Regions from separate parts of the Homo sapiens genome. Here region 2 is linked to region 1. The links come from fine-mapping of genetic effects on plasma protein levels. Region 1 holds a variant in brackets. A gene starts in the other region. All regions are shown on their reverse strands.

The links. PIP is the posterior inclusion probability: the model's chance that the variant is causal. The UK Biobank Pharma Proteomics Project read protein levels with antibody pairs (Olink). The fine-mapping took linkage between variants from a reference panel, not from the people measured, so its PIPs are less certain.
Region 2: it holds the start of LGALS3BP, and the variant in region 1 is fine-mapped to the plasma level of the LGALS3BP protein (UK Biobank, PIP above 0.99).

What each region holds. Positions count from the first base shown.
Region 1 is chr8:16,183,135-16,191,475 of GRCh38, reverse strand. All of the region lies in intron 1 of MSR1 (macrophage scavenger receptor 1), which reads left to right. Among named protein-coding and RNA genes, the nearest start is that of MSR1, 5.3 kb to the left of the region's middle. The variant G/A (reference allele first, on the strand shown) is at 4,050.
Region 2 is chr17:78,976,553-78,984,893 of GRCh38, reverse strand. LGALS3BP (galectin 3 binding protein) reads left to right here and starts at 4,971. Exons shown (of 6, transcript NM_005567.4): 1 at 4,971-5,070; 2 at 7,680-7,754. The coding sequence starts at 7,703. RefSeq lists enhancers at 3,945-4,937, 8,035-8,341.

The DNA.
Region 1 (8,341 bases):
TGTACCAGGCAATTTACAAAAATTATTTTTAATTCTCGCAATAATTCTTTAAATTTATATTGTGATCATATTTTACATATCTAAAGAAAGTTCAATTCAAATAAGTTAAAATATTTGCCTAAGATCACACAGCTAAATGATGTCACAGTCAATACTCAAATCTAGATTTCAGATTCAAAAGTTGATGCTCTTTCTTCTTTGCTACCAAGGATGAATATCAGTGACATCAGGCACAATATAAATATTTCCATTTCTTACTAAAATCTGTCTTACAGACGGGTTCCTTAAGCATAAAGCTGTTAGTTTCACAAATAATCTTAATTTAATTTTCATTTTATATACACATTCAACTGCTGTTACAAAAATCAAAGTTATTATTTTATATAATAAGGAGGATCACAAGCTTATTATTTATTCCAAATGTTGAAGATAAAGTTGGCCTTAAGAATATGATGGGCCGGGCACGGTGGCTCACGCCTGTAATCCCAGCACTTTGGGAGGCCAAGGCAGGTGGATTACCTGAGGTCGGGAGTTCAAGACCAGCCTGACCAACATGGAGAAACCCTGTCTCTACTGAAAATACAAAATTAGCCGGGCGTGGTGGTGCATGCTTGTAATCCCAGTTACTCCGGAGTCTGAGGCAGGAGAATCACATGAACCCAGGAGGCGGAGGTTGTGGTGAGCCAAGATCACGCCATTGCACTCCAGCCTGGGCAACAAGAGCGAAACTCCATCTCAAAAACAAAAAGAAAGAAAGAAAAAAGAAAGAATATGATAAAAAAACTAAATAGGGAAAAATCTTAGGAAAACGAATGCATGTCAAGTATGAAAAGACAGATGGTAAATATGTATTAAACATAAAGAGCTGATTCACATGCTTAGGTAAAAGAAACCTGTGGGGATGTATAAGCAGTGAATATGAATAGATAATAACCCAAGAAGAACAATGTATGACAGACAATTACAGTGAAATCTCTCTCTTACATTAATAATAAAAAATAAAAATGAAAACCACTTTTAGGTATTATTTAACTCTTATCAAAATCTAAATGATTCTAAAATAAGCTTTATTATTCAATGGTAGTGAATTTTGCTTGAAACTGCCATATTCACATATAAGTCTGGAATATTTATAAATTTATGTTATCTTTTTAAAGATCACTAAGACAGTAGAGCCCAAGAAGTTCAAAATAGTTTTCCTTTCACTTTTTAGTTTCACATATGATGAATTATCCTAAAGAAACATTTTAAAAGAAGAAAGCTAAATTATGAAAATAATGGCCGGGGCAGTGGCTCACATCTGTAATCCCAGCACTTTGGGAGGCCAAGGAGGGTGGATCACCTGAGGTCAGGAGTTTGAGACCAGCTGGATGAACGCGGTGAAAAATACAAAAATGAGCTGGGCATGGTGGCAAACGCCTATAATCCCGCTACTCGGGAAGCTGAGGCAGGAGAATCACGTGAACCCAGGAGGCAGAGGTTTCAGTCAGCTGAGATCACACCATTACACTCCAGCCTGGGTGACAAAGCAAGACTCAATCTCAAAAAAAAAAAAAAAAAGGAAATATTTATAACATCATTATTTATATCAGTGAAGCATTGCCCCCTGGGAAAAGGAAAAAAAGTTTAAAAGAAAAAATTATATTTTAGAAAAATGGCTGTATTTTTTATTTAGAAAAATGGCTGTATAAATAAGATTTTATATATATATAAAATATATATAAAATAAGATTTTATATATATATAAAATATATATAAAATAAGATTTTATATATATATAAAATATATATAAAATAAGATTTTATATATATATAAAATATATATAAAATAAGATTTTATATATATATAAAATATATATAAAATAAGATTTTATATATATATAAAATATATATAAAATATATATAAAATAAGATTTCATATATATAAAATATATAAAATATATATAAAATATGATTTTTTATATATAAAAATATATATAAAATAAGATTTTATATATAAAATATATAAAATATATATAAAATAAGATTTTATATATATAAAATATGATTTTATATATATAAAATATATATAAAATATATATAAAATAAGATTTTATATATATAAAATATATATAAAAATATATAAAATAAGATTTTATATATATATGAAATGTAAATAAGATTTTATATATATATGAAATGTAAATAAGATTTTATATATTTGAAATATAAATAAAATAAGATTATATCTAAATATATATAAAATAAGATTTTACATATATGAAATATATATAAAATAAGGTTTTACGTATATATGAAATATATGTAAAATAAGGTTTTACGTATATATGAAATATATGTAAAATAAGGTTTTGCGTATATATGAAATATATGTAAAATAAGGTTTTGCGTATATATGAAATATATGTAAAATAAGGTTTTATATATATAAGCAAGTCTTTGCTACATAATAATTCAACACATATATATATGTTGTTTTATATATATATATATATATATATATATATATGTATGTGTGTTGAATTATTAGGTAGCAAACACTTGGAACCAACCCAAATGTCCCTCAGTGATAGACTGGGTAAAGAAAATGTGGCATATATACACCATGGACTACTATGCAGCCATAAAAAAGATGAGTTGATGTCCTTTGCAGGGACATGGATGAAGCTGGAAACCATCATTCTCAGCAAACTAACAGAGGAACAGAAAAAGAAACACTGCATGTTCTCACTCATAAGTGACAGTTGAACAGTGAGAGCACGTGGACACAGGGAGGGGAGCATCACACACCGGGGCCTGTCAGTAGGTGGGAGGCAAGGGGAGGCATAGCATTAGGACAAACTCCTAATGCATGTGGGACTTAAAACCTAGATGATGGGCTGATGGGTGCAGCAAACCACCATGGCATATGTATACCAATGTAGCAAACCTGCACGTTCTGCACGTGTATCCCAGAACCTAAAGAATAATAAAAAAAATTTCAAGTTTGAAAAATTCGTTTGAAATATTAAAATAATGAGGTGATTTTAAGGAAAACGCGTAATACCAAATGATACGTGCATGATGATATGAACTATGTTACAGGTATACATACATCCAAAGACTCGAGTTTCATTTAAAAAATTAAGGGTTTTTTTCCTTTATTAGGGTGATGAGATGACAGAAATTTCATCCTAACATATCTATAATATTATTAAAATGTTTTATAATAAAAACAAAAAAGTAAGGTATATGGTTCCCAACAAATTAACCTTGAAATTCTTTCATTATGAATTTCCTGTAAACTTTTCATCCACTTGATAAAATGCTGATATTACAGAAACGTGTTTCACTTCTCATGAGCACGTGCTTTTAATAGATTACACAAACTCCAAGGATTTTACAATCGTTTATCAGCACACTGACATTTAATAGGAAGAGTAACTTTATGTGAAGCTACTTTTTGTCCTAACTGTGGAACTGATATTAAAAGGCACACTTGAACAGTGTGAGTTGTTCACTGCCTGCTAATGAAGGCTCATGCAAGTATGTATGTTCACGTTACTAAAAAATTACAATGATTATAACCAGAGTAAGCAGCTGAAATAATCTGGTAATTTTAATAATAAATGCTTTTGAAGCAAAGTGGGTTCACTGAGGGTAATATTTTTTGTTTCAGTTTGCTAGTTACGTGCAGTGCAGAGAGAAATATTTTATTTTCCAATATGTAACAGAAGAATTTTTAAAATCCCTACTTTAGTGAACCACAAAGTTTTCTTGAGGCATAACCTAAGATATAAAATCCAGTCATCTTGAAAAATATCTTGCCTTTCATTTATTTATGTAATTTTAAATACGGCATTATGTATGTAATGAGCACCTTCAGGAACTCTCTGATCCCTGAACCAAAGAGATCAAAAGTCCACATCATGGATCTGGCTTGGATGAGAGAAGACAGATGATAGACAAGACAAATAAGGAATATATGTTTTTGGGGGAAAGAAAATGAAGCCAGGGTGGGGAAGACAAAGCCCCAAGGGGTTGTAGGTTGAAAATGGATGTTCAGGAACA[G/A]TCAGCTTGCTTGCTTGCTTGCTTTTTCTTTCTTTCCTTTTTTTTTTTTTTTTTTTTTTTTTGGAGACAGAGTTTTATTCTTGTTGCCCAGGCTAGAGTGCAGTGGCCTGATCTTGGCTCACTGCTACCTCTGTTTCCCAGGTTCAAGCAATTCTCCTGTCTCAGCCTTCTGAGTAGCTGGGATTAGAGGTACCCGCCACCACACTCAGCTAATTTTTTGTATTTTTAGTAGAGACAGGGTTTCATCATTGGGCCAGGATGGTCTCGAACTCCTGACCTCAGGTGATCCACCCGCCTCAGCCTCCCAAAGTGCAGGAATTACAGGTGGTCTGCTTTTTTGAGTCAGACTTTAATGACGGCCTGAGTGAGACGAGAAGGCATTCAGGGGCTTTGAGCATGGGAGTGACTCAATCTGCCTTACTTTTTAAGAGGATTCTTCTGGGAAGTGTGTGGAGAATTAATTCAAGAATGTAAGCGTGAAAGTCAGGGAGCTATTAAAATCAACAAGGTGAGGCCATGCTCAATAGCTCATGTGTGTAATGCCAAAAATTTGGGAGGCTGAGGTGGGTAGATTGCTTGAGGCTAAAGAGTTTGAGATCAGCCTGGGCAACATAGTAAGACTGCATCTCTAGATGGGCATGGTGGCATGCACCCGTAGACCCAGCTACTCAGGAGGCTGAGGTGGAAGAATCACTTGAACCCAGGAGGTCAAGGTTGCAGTGATGTGATCACACGGCTGCACTCCAGCCTGAGCAAGAGAGCAAGACCTTGTCTCAAAAAAAAAAAAAAGAAATGTCACGGTGAAAGGGATGATGGGGCTTGGACAGGATGCTAGCAAGGAAGTGACAAGAAGCCCTCAGTTTCTACATAGCGTTTGAAAACAAAGCAACAGGGTTGGATGAGAGATTGGATGTAGTGGATGAGAAAAGGCGAGGAAAAGAAGACCTCTAGGTTTGCACCATATTAGAATTCTAAGCAGGGGTGTTGTTAGGCAGTGCATATATGGGTTTGTAGTTGAGAGACGAGCTATGGGCAAGAGATAAAGACTTAAGAGTCATCAGCCTTCTAGATTATATTTAAAGCAATGAGGCTAGTGAGATCACCAAGGGAGTGAAAATAGGAGAGAAAACAGAACAGAAACTGGACCCTGGCTCACTCTGCTGTTGAGACGTTGGGGAGATGAGGAGGAATACCCAGAAATAAATAAAACTCCCCTGGATGTGCTATCTCAGTGCAATCATCAGTATCTCTCTTCTCAACAAAAAACCGTGAGCATGAACAACTTTCATTTATGCACTCAGGGACTTTCATTTTTATACATTTATTACTGCCAATCTTGCAAGGTTTTATTTCTGCTTCTACCACACAGGAAAAACAACTTAAATTCTATGTGGCAGGTTATGGATTTCTTGCAGGCCACGAACTTCTTTGTTCTTTTCCATGACCCTGACTGCTTCTTGTTTTTCTCTTGCAGCGTCAAAAAGTTCTTCCTTGTCTTTTGTGCTGAGTCTTCTTCCTCTACTCACCCACTGAATATCATGTTTTTCAAGTTTATGTGTGTGGTGTTTTTTTTTTTTTTTCCTGAAAAAAGGTATCTTCTACTGTTTGACTTTTTCCCTACGATTCTTTGTTAAAATGCTGTGTTTTAGATGCTATTAATTTGTCCTCTCTCTTAATGCCCTTGGATTTTCCTCTTAATTGTCTGCACCATTGCTGTTACCCAAGATGCCTGGCTGGAGTAGATAAAAATAAGCCGAAGTCCAAAAATTGGAATAGAATGGAAGGAATGGATCAAAGGAAATCAGGAGTTTTTGTGCAGTCAGATATGGGTCTTATAGATGAGAGCGGTCTAGAAAAGCAGTTCTGGGCTCAGATTGCGTGACTGTGCTTTGCCGGCATATTCCTAACTATATCACATATTCTCCACTATACAGTAAGTAGATGATAATAATAAGTGGGTATGATAATAAATAGATGATGTAAATGGATGATATAACCACAGTGAAAATCCTGGAAAAAGAAAAGTTAGGTTGCTGTAGAAAATCCACGTTTGTAGCTAGTTGTGTTATGTAAAACAAAAGCTGATGCTGAGATTGAGATCTGGTTTGGCTATATTGGCTTGATCAGGACACAGGCAGTAGTTCAAGCCATGGAAGTAGATGAGATTCTCAGAGAGACTGTGCAGACTAAGAAAAAAGAAAGTAACATCAGAAAATGCCACAAATCCTATGGCTTCATTATCTCTGATGAATGTGAGCTTTTTTTTTTTTCTGGAAAATATACATACCAACATTTCGTGCAGTTCATGATAAACCAATCCCTTTTGAACATTGCCCAGAAAGCAAACAGACTTCCCATGGTGCACAAATGTAGCCATAGGGAATATTGTTCATTCCTCATTGCACTGAGTATGCTTCAGTGTTCACCTCCCTTCTGGCCCACTACACCTGTCAGGGGTATTTTATAGACTAAATAGTGTCAGTTAGTCTAAATCACTCATAGACATGTACTAGGTGGTTTTCCTTTTTCAGAGATTAAATAAATCTTCCCAAGGTAACCACGGTTTAAAATATAGTAATCCACAAAATATTTATTATCACTTCTATATGCTAAAAAAAAATAAATCAAAGGTTAGAAACTTAAAGAAAAAACAAAATCAAGCTTCATCTCTAGTTCAAAGTGAAAGGGAGAAAAGCAAAATGTTTCATAAACAATATATATTGTCTCACTAATAATATTAATCCAGGTCACTACTGCCAAAGCAAACAATAAATTTTTACTTCATTTGTATAGATAGTAATTCAATGTTATATTTTGGGTAGGTTGTGAAAGCCAGATCAATTTATGCGATCAGAAAAATAAAGGAAGAAATTGATGAGTCGGATGCTACCGGCTACATGCCTCTCCAGCCTCTTCTTTTTGAACCTCCTTTGTACCTGTTTAGAGAAAAAGCATAAATAGTGTACTACCAACCTAACTAAGGTTATTATAGTCTGTTTGTTTAAAATACCATTTTTTTCTCCTTTTGTCTTTTTCCCACTCTCGAAGGTACTCAAGAAAATTGAACAGATGTAATAGATCAAATTAAAACATTTTATTTCCTGAAAGCCTTTTTTGCCTGTTGTAATGTGCAGGACCCCTCTCCTTTAATGGGAGAGACAGGAAGTTACCTGAATCTAGGCTGAAAAGGTTATGTGAAAAGAAAGTATAATAATAAAAGGGACACTTGGCTTTTTAAATCTTTGTTTTCTCTTAACCTAAGTAAGGCATATTAAAAATAAATGTTAAGGTGAAAAATAAATGTTGTCTTTATGAAAAATTAAAACTGCTCTCAGTTCCATATTGTTCATACCTTCATGCTTTTTAACATGATATTTTCCATCCTGGAATGACCTTACCCCAGATTCTGCTCATTTTCAAAACCCTGATTCATTGTCATCTTTTCTGTATTCCTACCTTGATTACCCACTTCCCCAAAAGAGTTAATCACTCACTTTTGTACTATGCCTGTGCCATATATATATATATAATTATATATTATATAATAATATAAATATATTTAATATTATATATTGCCAATTCTATGATATATAAAATATATAATATATAATATATTTGCCAACTAATATAATATATAATATATTAACATAATATAAATTACATATAATTATACATATATTTATATTATATATTATATAATTGCCAAATATATATGGTATTACATATAATATAATTGGGAAATATATATTTATAATATATGTTATATTAATATGATAATATATTTATTATATTATATATTATATATATTATATATTTGCCTATTATATAATATATTATGTAATATATTAACATAATATAAATTATATATTATATAATGTATATATAAATATGTATTACATGTTATAGATGTAATTATATAATGAATATTTATATCTATATAGTTATTCATCTATTCATATATGAATATTCAGCATATTCTATTTATTCAGTATATTCAATATTTATTTAATATATTCAATGTTCCAGGTTGCTTTAGGCTGTAGTGACATAATGTGGACAAAAGCAGACATGGTCCCTACTCGTTCAGAGTTCAGAGTGTAAAGATGTTTATCAGATTCAAAAGTCTTCAGCTTTTTTCACAAACGGTCTTACCTGGTAGATAGAATAATCTGAGCTGTTTATTTTGCATTTCAGTAAAAATGGAGGCAGAATATCTCAAATGTGAGGATCAAAGCCATAATCAAACATGTGGAGAAGGGGCCAGTAGGTAGCCTGAAAGGAAAGCTTTTCTG
Region 2 (8,341 bases), not on the chromosome of region 1:
ACCACCACACCCAGCTCATTTTTTATATTTTCGGTATTGATGGGGTTTCACCATGTTGGCCAGGCGGGTCTTGAACTCCTGACCTCAAGTGATCTGCCCTCCTCACCCTCCCAAAGTGCTGGGATTACAGGCGTGAGCCACCGCGCCCAGCCGGGCTCAGTTAATTTAGAGTTTATTTTGCCAAGGTTGAGGACGTGGGCGCCCCTGACACAGCCTCAGGAGGGCCTGGCAGTGTGTGCCCAAGGTGGTCAGGGCACAGCTTGGTTTTATACATTTTAGGGAGATATAAGACATCAATCAACACATGTAAAATGAACATTGGTTCAGTCTGGAAAGGCAGGACAACTCCAAGTGGGGAGGGGGCTTCCAGGTCACAGGTAGATGAGAGACAAATGGATACATTCTTTTTTTTTTCTTTTGACGGAGTCTCTCTCTGTCGCCCTGGCTGGAGTGCAGTGGCGCAATCTCGGCTCACTGCAACCTCTGCCTGCCGGGTGCACACCATTCTCCTGCCTTAAAGTTGAAGTCATTTGTTCCCACAGAGAACAGAGTTGTGAAAGGAAAATATCTTGGGCCCCAAAATCACCAGCTAAAGGGAAAAGTCAAGCTGGGACTGATTAGGGCCATCCTGCCTCCCATTCTATTCAGTCACCCTCTGCTCACCAGGCGTGGTGGCTCACGCCTATAATCCCAGCACTTTGTGGGGCGGAGGTGGGTGGATCACGAGGTCAAGAGATCGAGAACATCCTGGCCAACATGGTGAAACCCCGTCTCTACTTAAAAAAATACAAAAAATTAGCCGGCATGGTGGCGGGCGCCTGTAGTCCCAGCTACTCGGGAGGCTGAGGCAAGAGAATGGCTTGAACCCGGGAGGCGGAGCTTGCAATGAGCCGAGATCGCACCACTGCACTCCAGCCTGGGCGACAGAACGAGACTCTGTCTCAAAAAAAAGAAAAAAAAAAAAAGATAATGAAAAGCAAGCTTTTCATTAAAAATAAAAGTGCAAATCATATATCTGCTACAGGAACAGAATATATATAAAGAACTTACACAACAAACAAGCCAGTTTTCAAACGTGCATAAGATTTGAACAGACGCTTTGCCAAAGAGGATGTGTGAATGACAGAGAAGCATAAAGATGCTCAACATCATTCGTCTTTTTTTTTTTTTTCTGTTTTTTTGAGACGGAGTTTCACTCTTGTTGCCCAGGCTGGAGTGCAATGGCACGATCTCGGCTCACTGCAACCTCTGCCTTCCAGGTTCTAGTGATTCTCCTGCCTCAGCCTGCCAAGTAGCTGGGATTACAGGCATGCGCCACCACGCCCGGCTAATTTTTTTGTATTTTTTAGTTGAGATGGGGTTTCTCCATGTTGATCAGGCTAGTCTCAAACTCCTGACCTCAGGTGATCTGCCCACCTCAGCTTCCCAAAGTGCTGGGATTACAGGCGTGAGCCACAGCACCCGGCCTATCATTCGTCATTATAACCACAATGAAACTTCACTACATGCCCACCAGAATGGATGAAATTTAAAGACTGACAATACCAAGTATTGGTGACGATTTAAACCACTGGAACATGAAGAAATTACTAGCAAGAATGCAAAATGTTTCAGCAACTTTGGAAAACAGTTTCTTTTCTTTTTTTTTTTTTTGAGACGGCATCTCGCTCTGTTGCCCAGGCTGGAGTACCGTGGTGTGATCTCGGCTCACTGCAACCTCTGCCTCCTGGGTTCAAGCGATTCTCCTGCCTCAGCCTCCCGAATAGCTGGGATTACAGGCGCCTACCACCATGTTTGGCTAATTTTTGTATTTTTTTGTAGACACGGGGTTTCACCATCTTGACCAGGCTGGTCTTGAACTCCTGACCTCGTGATCTACCCACCTCAGCCTCCTGAAGTGCTGGGTAGTTTCTTAAAAAGGTAAACATATATCTACCATATGACCCAGTAATCCTGCTCCTAGGTATTTACACAAAATAAATACTTATTTTCACACAAAGACTTGTATCCAAATGTTTCCAGCAGCTTTATGCATAATAGTGGAAGATGGAATGACCCAAATGTCCATCAGTGCAAACATGTATTAACAGTGGTGTTCTGTCCATACAGTGGGCCGCCACCCAGCAAAACCAGGAGCCAGTTACTGATTGTTGAGATAGCATGGATGGATCTCAGAAGCACTGTGGTAAGTAAAAGAAGCCACATGCAAAATATTAAATACTGTATGATTCCATTTAGAGGGAATTCTAGGGTCCAGGAGTGGTGCCTCATGCCTGTAATCCCAGCACTTTGGGAGGCAGAGGCAGGCGGATCACCTGAGTTCAGGGGTTCGAGGCCAGCCTGGCCAATGTGGAGAAACCCCTTCTCTACTAAAAATACAAAAATTAGCTGGGCGTGGTGGTGGGCGCACCTGTAATCCCAGCTACTCGGGAGGCCGAGGCAGGAGAATCACTTGGACCTGAGAGGCAGAGATTGCAGTGAGCCGAGATTGTTCCACTGCACTCCAGCCTGGGCAATGGAGGGAGACTGTGTCTTAAAAAAGAAGACAAAATAGAGGGAATTCTAGGAAAGGCAACCAGCAGTGGCAGAAGCTGAGAGGTGGTTGCTGGGAAGGGGCTGGGGGGAGGGGTGGCTGCAGAGGGGCATAAGAGAATTCTTAGGGGTGATTGAAACGCCCTAGGTAATGATTGTTGTCATGATACCATCGCTACACATTTGCCAAAACTTTGCACGTAAATTATATGCCAAGAAAGCCAATTTTTAAAAAGAAGGAAAGGATGGGTTTGAAACCCCAGTTCTTCCCCTACCAGCTGCACAACTTTAGCCGATTACGTCGCCTCACTGAGCCTCTGTTTTCTCATCTGTAACAGGGAATATAAGAGCAGCTGCTTCCCATCATGGCTGGAAGTATTAAATGCATTCATTTGTGGCAAGGCTTATAGTAATGCCTGGCGAAATCCATATTAGCTATTATAGGGAGCGTTCCTCAATTTGCGGAGAGGTTTGGGGTAGAGGCACAAAAGATGACCTTACAGGCCAGTTAACCATTCTCATCTCTGAAATGCCCCGCACTTTCCCTACCATGTCTTGGGAGCGGCTTCCTGATGACAGCAGTTCTGTCCACACGAATCTGAGGCTTTCACCCAGCTGTCTTCTCAGAGCCGAGCCGCTGCCCCTTCCCCTGCCTGTCCCCTGTCAGCGCTTCCCTCCACCCCATGGTCATCGCACACCGGAAAGGCCTTGCGAGCCCCAGGGGAGCAGATGTTGGTGCTCCGATTCCACGAGGAGGCCTCTGGGTTTTCCATTTTACCTGCCTGGATGGCTTAGGACTTTCCCGGACTCTGGGGCTAAAGATTCGGCACCTGAGTTTTAAAACCTTTCCCAGCACTTCCCAGAGATGCCCTCCCGTCCTCTGCACTCCTGTCCTTCCCTGGCCACTTGGGCAGAAGTCATTAGCACTGCTGAGAAGGGATGATGCTGGGGTTTCTGTGCACTCAGGCCCTTAATCCAGATGAGATTTTTTTAAACTCCCCACAGCCAGTTCTATTTCCAGCTGCACCTGCCCCTGGATCTTCACAGTTCCTCTGGAGGGGATTAGGCAAACCGTGCAGCTGCCTAAAACCTCACACCTTGAAGGAAATAGTCATTGAATGTCTGACCTCTGGGCTGGCTGTCTCGGACTCTAAGCTGCCAGGGAACCAGGGCCTTCCACCCAGTGGGACTGCCTGGGGGCTTTTAAATGCCCCTGCCTGTCCCCTACTCCCAGAGATGGTGACTTCCTGGGTCTAGGCATTAGGAGTTTGTAAAACTCCCTGATGATTCTTCTGTCCAGCCCAGGCTGAGAACCACTGGTCAGAGGCCTGGGCACATCCCAAGGCTCATCCAGAACCATGGGGTGCAAGTGACAGAAACAAGAGCGGCTGCTGATTGCCTCACTGAGCGGTGAAGCCCAGCCTTGACCATGGATTAGGCCAGCTGGACCCAGGAGCTCAGGCCGGAGGATGCCTGCTTCCCTCTGCTCTGCCCCACCGGCCCCAGCAGCCTGGGCCCACATCCTCTCAGTCAGAAGCTGGCTCTCACCGGCTGGCTGGGCTCACAGCCCCACCCTGAAACCAGCAGTGTGGCCCGGGGCCCCCGCAGGGCTCAGACAGCCAGGCCTTGGGTGGTTGAAGGCCAAGAGCTGGGGGCCCTCTGGGAACCACACAGCCGGGAATGGGAGGGGGTGCTCCCCAAGGGACAGTTGAGGTGCCGGCTTTCAGTGGGAGGAAAGGGAATGGGTATGAGCTGGACAGAGCCATTATGTCACCCAGAGAGGCTCTGTCCCCCGCCCCGCTGAGGGGGAGACAGTAGGAGAGTGGCCACAGGTCCAGCAGTGGCGAGCACAGGCTCTGGGGTCAGGTGTTGGAGCAGGGTCCAGCTCCTCCACTGGCCAGCTGCATACCTGGTTCTCAGTGCCTCCCTCCCCTGGGGACAGGGGACAGTGCCATGCAACCTTGTGGGGCACAGGCCCTCTGTGTGGTCAGCATGCCAAGAGCACAGAGAGGGTGGATTTGCACATAAGCAGCCCCCTGTGTGGTGTTCACCCAGCCAGCAACGTGCTAGACCCAGGAAAAGACTCGGAGCGCTCTGTCAGAGTCCACAGCCACACCACCAGGTGCAGACTGTCTGGGCCCAGAGCCTCTGCTTCTTCCCCTCCCGTCCACCAAACGCCAGCCCCTGACCAGCCTGGCGGCCTTTCCAACTGAGTGTGGCTGTTAGTCCTCTTGCAGGCCTTGCTCCAGCCAGACTCCCACCTTGGGCCTCTGCCAGCCTGGCACTGATAGCCACAGGCAGAGCTGAGACAAAAGAGAGGGGCCCTGGGGAGTATCAGCAGCAGCCAATCCCGGAAGACATCTATGTCAGGTGGTTTCTGGAAATCGAAAGTAGACTCTTTTCTGAAGCATTTCCTGGGATCAGCCTGACCACGCTCCATACTGGGAGAGGCTTCTGGGTCAAAGGACCAGTCTGCAGAGGGATCCTGTGGCTGGAAGCGAGGAGGCTCCACACGGCCGTTGCAGCTACCGCAGCCAGGTAAGCTCCTGCCTCTAGCTCTCAGGTGGGCACCCCTCTCAGTCTCTCTCTCTTTTTTATTTTTATTTTTTTTGAGACAGGGTCTCACTCTGTCACCCAGGCTGGAGTACAGTGATGCAATGTCCGCTCACTGCAGCCTCTGCCTCCTGGGTTCAAACGATTCTCCTGCCTCGGCCTCCCAAGTAGCTGGGATTACAGGCGCGTGCCACCACGCCCAGCTAATTTTTGTATTTTTAGTAGAGACAGGGTTTCGCCATCTTGGCCAGGCTGGTCTCAAACTCCTGACCTCTGGTGATCCACCCGCCTCGGCCTCCCAAAGTGTAGGGATTACAGGTGTGAGCCACCGCGCCCGGCCAGGGCACCCCTCTCTCTACACAGGCAAGTGGGGGTCATGCCTCCCTGTTTGCACATAGGCCTGGAGCTGGGGATCCAGGGCTCCTGAGTCCAGCAACAATCATTGCTGCTCCCAGGCCCACAGGGCCTCTGTGTACAGTTGGGCAGATTACTCACTGCACAAGGATACCAGCCAAAGGGCAAGTGGGTTAGAATTCAGCTTGGCCCTCTCTCAGACCTGTGCATTTGGCCTAGGCCTGCACCCACTCCAAGGAAGAGCACCTTTTTTTCTGATTTGCACGAAGGGGCCAACACAGGCAGCCGGGTCTCAACTGTATGAAGGAATCAGGCAAAAATAGCCGCTGCCACACAAAGGGCAGCGACGCCACCTGCCAGGTGCTTCGTTGCCCCCCCCCCTTTTTTTTTTGAGACAGAGTCTTGCTCTGTCACCCAGGCTGGAGTGCAGCGGCTCACTACAATCTCTGCCTGCCGGATTCAAGCAATTCTGTTGCCTCAGCCTCCTGAGTAGCTGGGACTACAGGTGCACACCACCATGCCCAGCTTATTATTATTATTATTTTGTATTTTTAGTAGAGCCGGGGTTTCACCATGTTGGCCAGGCTGGTCTTGAACTCCTGACCTCAAGTGATCCACCTGCCCCAGCCTCCCAAAGTTCTGGGATTACAGGCGTGAGCCATCGCGCCTGGCCAGTTGGCCATTTTTCCAAGGCCCTGAGTTACTCTCCCAGGACGGACAAACCTAGTGGCTGCAGCAGAGTGAAGTGGCTGGGGGCAGAAGTGGAGAGGGCGTCCACCCATACCGGCGTGCCTGGGACTGAGGGGTTTCCCAGGACACAGGGAAACTTCAGTGCTAAAACCAGCACAGTCCCCAGCACACAGGACAGGCGGTCACACCCTGGCCCCTTTAGCCATCTACTGACATTGACACAGGGAGGAGAGGTGGGCTCCCCCGAGCAGACCCCCTGCCTGTGGCTCACTGACTGTGGATGTGGAGCCCATTTGCCTCTCTGGGTGTCAGCTCATTCACTTGTAAGGTGAGGTGTAACTAAGGTGGTTCTCAGGGTCACGGTAAGGCCTCCAGTGGTGCCCGGGGAGCCCCGACAAGGGGTGGCTGCACAGTGCCAGCGAGCACGAGTCCCAGAGCAAAGCTGCTCACCAGCCAGTGCACCCAGCTCCCAGGGCGCTTGTTCATGCAGACTCCCATGCAGAGGGGCTAGGGCAAGGCCAGCCATGACTGCATTTCCGACAAGCTCTGGGGATGCCATTGCAGCCGTCCACCAGGCCCCCTCCAAGCAGCCTCAAGGTCACCAGGCCCAGACTCCCAGCCGGTGCCCACAGCAGTGCCACCCAGAGGCCTGCCCCAGGCTTGCTGAACTGAGGGGACAGTGTCAGGTATCACAGGATTCTTACCGAGCCAGAGAAACCATAACTGTCTCTCCATTGGCAGGGTGTGGGGGAGGGAGGCAGACGAAGACAAAAGCGTGGAAATTACACGGAGGCAAGAACACCAGGCCAGAAGGTGGAGACCCGGACCTCCCCAGTCCTGGCCTGAGTGTCAGTGTCTTGGGGATACTTCAGCATTTCCTCCCTGTTCTTCCCCCAGCCTGGCCCACCCTGGGCTGCAGCCCTGACCCTTTTCATCTATCTTCCCCATCGGAACACCACGGAGCCCCGATATATCTCCCTGCCACTTATCTCTGTCACCCCTCGCCCGGATTCTGTGCCCTCTCCTGACGAGTCCCCTCCCATCCACTCTCCAGGCTGCAGCCTCGTCTCTGCCTGCTGAGACCCTCTGGGACAGTCCCTGCAGGGGTCTGTTGCCTGAAGCTTAAGGCCGAGATCTTAACCAGGCTCACCCGGCCTCCCGACCTGGGCCCACGCCTGTGGCCTCCTCCATCTCCCCGCCCATGCCCGTGTGGCAGCCTTGCCCGGGGCCTGGTTTTTTGAGATGAGCTCACTTGCCTCTAGTCACCAATTCTTGCTGCCCTTACTGCCAGGGGGTGCCCCCAGCCCACGCTTCATCTAGCCAAGTGTTACACATCCTTCCAGGACCACACTGCAGACCAGGTGAGGGGCCCCCGCGGGGGCATCCACAGCACACGTCACACTTACTGGGATCATAGTGGGCTCTGCAAGAGAGGGACCCCGCCTGCCACACAGCCCAGGTTGGGCTGAAGGGTGAATGGGCAGGCCAGTCCCTGGGGCCTCGGGCCATCTGGCTCCCGTGCCTCACCCCTCCGCTTCTGTCTGCTGCAGGATCTGGGCATCCAGGCACGGCCATGACCCCTCCGAGGCTCTTCTGGGTGTGGCTGCTGGTTGCAGGAACCCAAGGTGAGCTGAGCCCCTGGGAAATACCAAAAGCAGAAGTGTGGAAGGCTGGTGCACCCTGGGGCTGCTCAGAGCTTCAAGGAGATATTCTGCCTGGGGCCCGGGGCCCAGCGGTTAGCCAGATCTTCTCTCCTGCTTGAAGCACCAGGTATCCCCAGTGATGATGACTTGGAGGTTCCCGGGGGCTCACCTGGGTTCAGGTGAGATGCAGGTTATAGAGAGGACACTAGGGAATCCTCCATTCCGTCCAGAGGGAACCAGAGGGGCTGATCAAACCAGCAGTCACAGGGGCCGTTGTGAGGTCAGTGGCCTTGGACGCAGGTCAGTCTTCCAGAGGGTCCTGGCTGCTTTTCCTCACATTCTTTACACTGTGAGCCCCTGGAAGCTCATGCTCATCCTGGGGGCCCCATGGAAGCCAGATGTACCCCCGACTGGATTCAGGCACCCAGCTCCTGCCCGGCTCTGTCAGCTCCTGTAGGGGCTGGAGTGTTGGTGGACTGAGTCCCAGAAGGACATGTGGGGCGGGGGAATCCCATTATCTGCCCTGGAAACATTCTGCCTGTGCTCCCAGGGGTCCCTAGGCCTGCTGC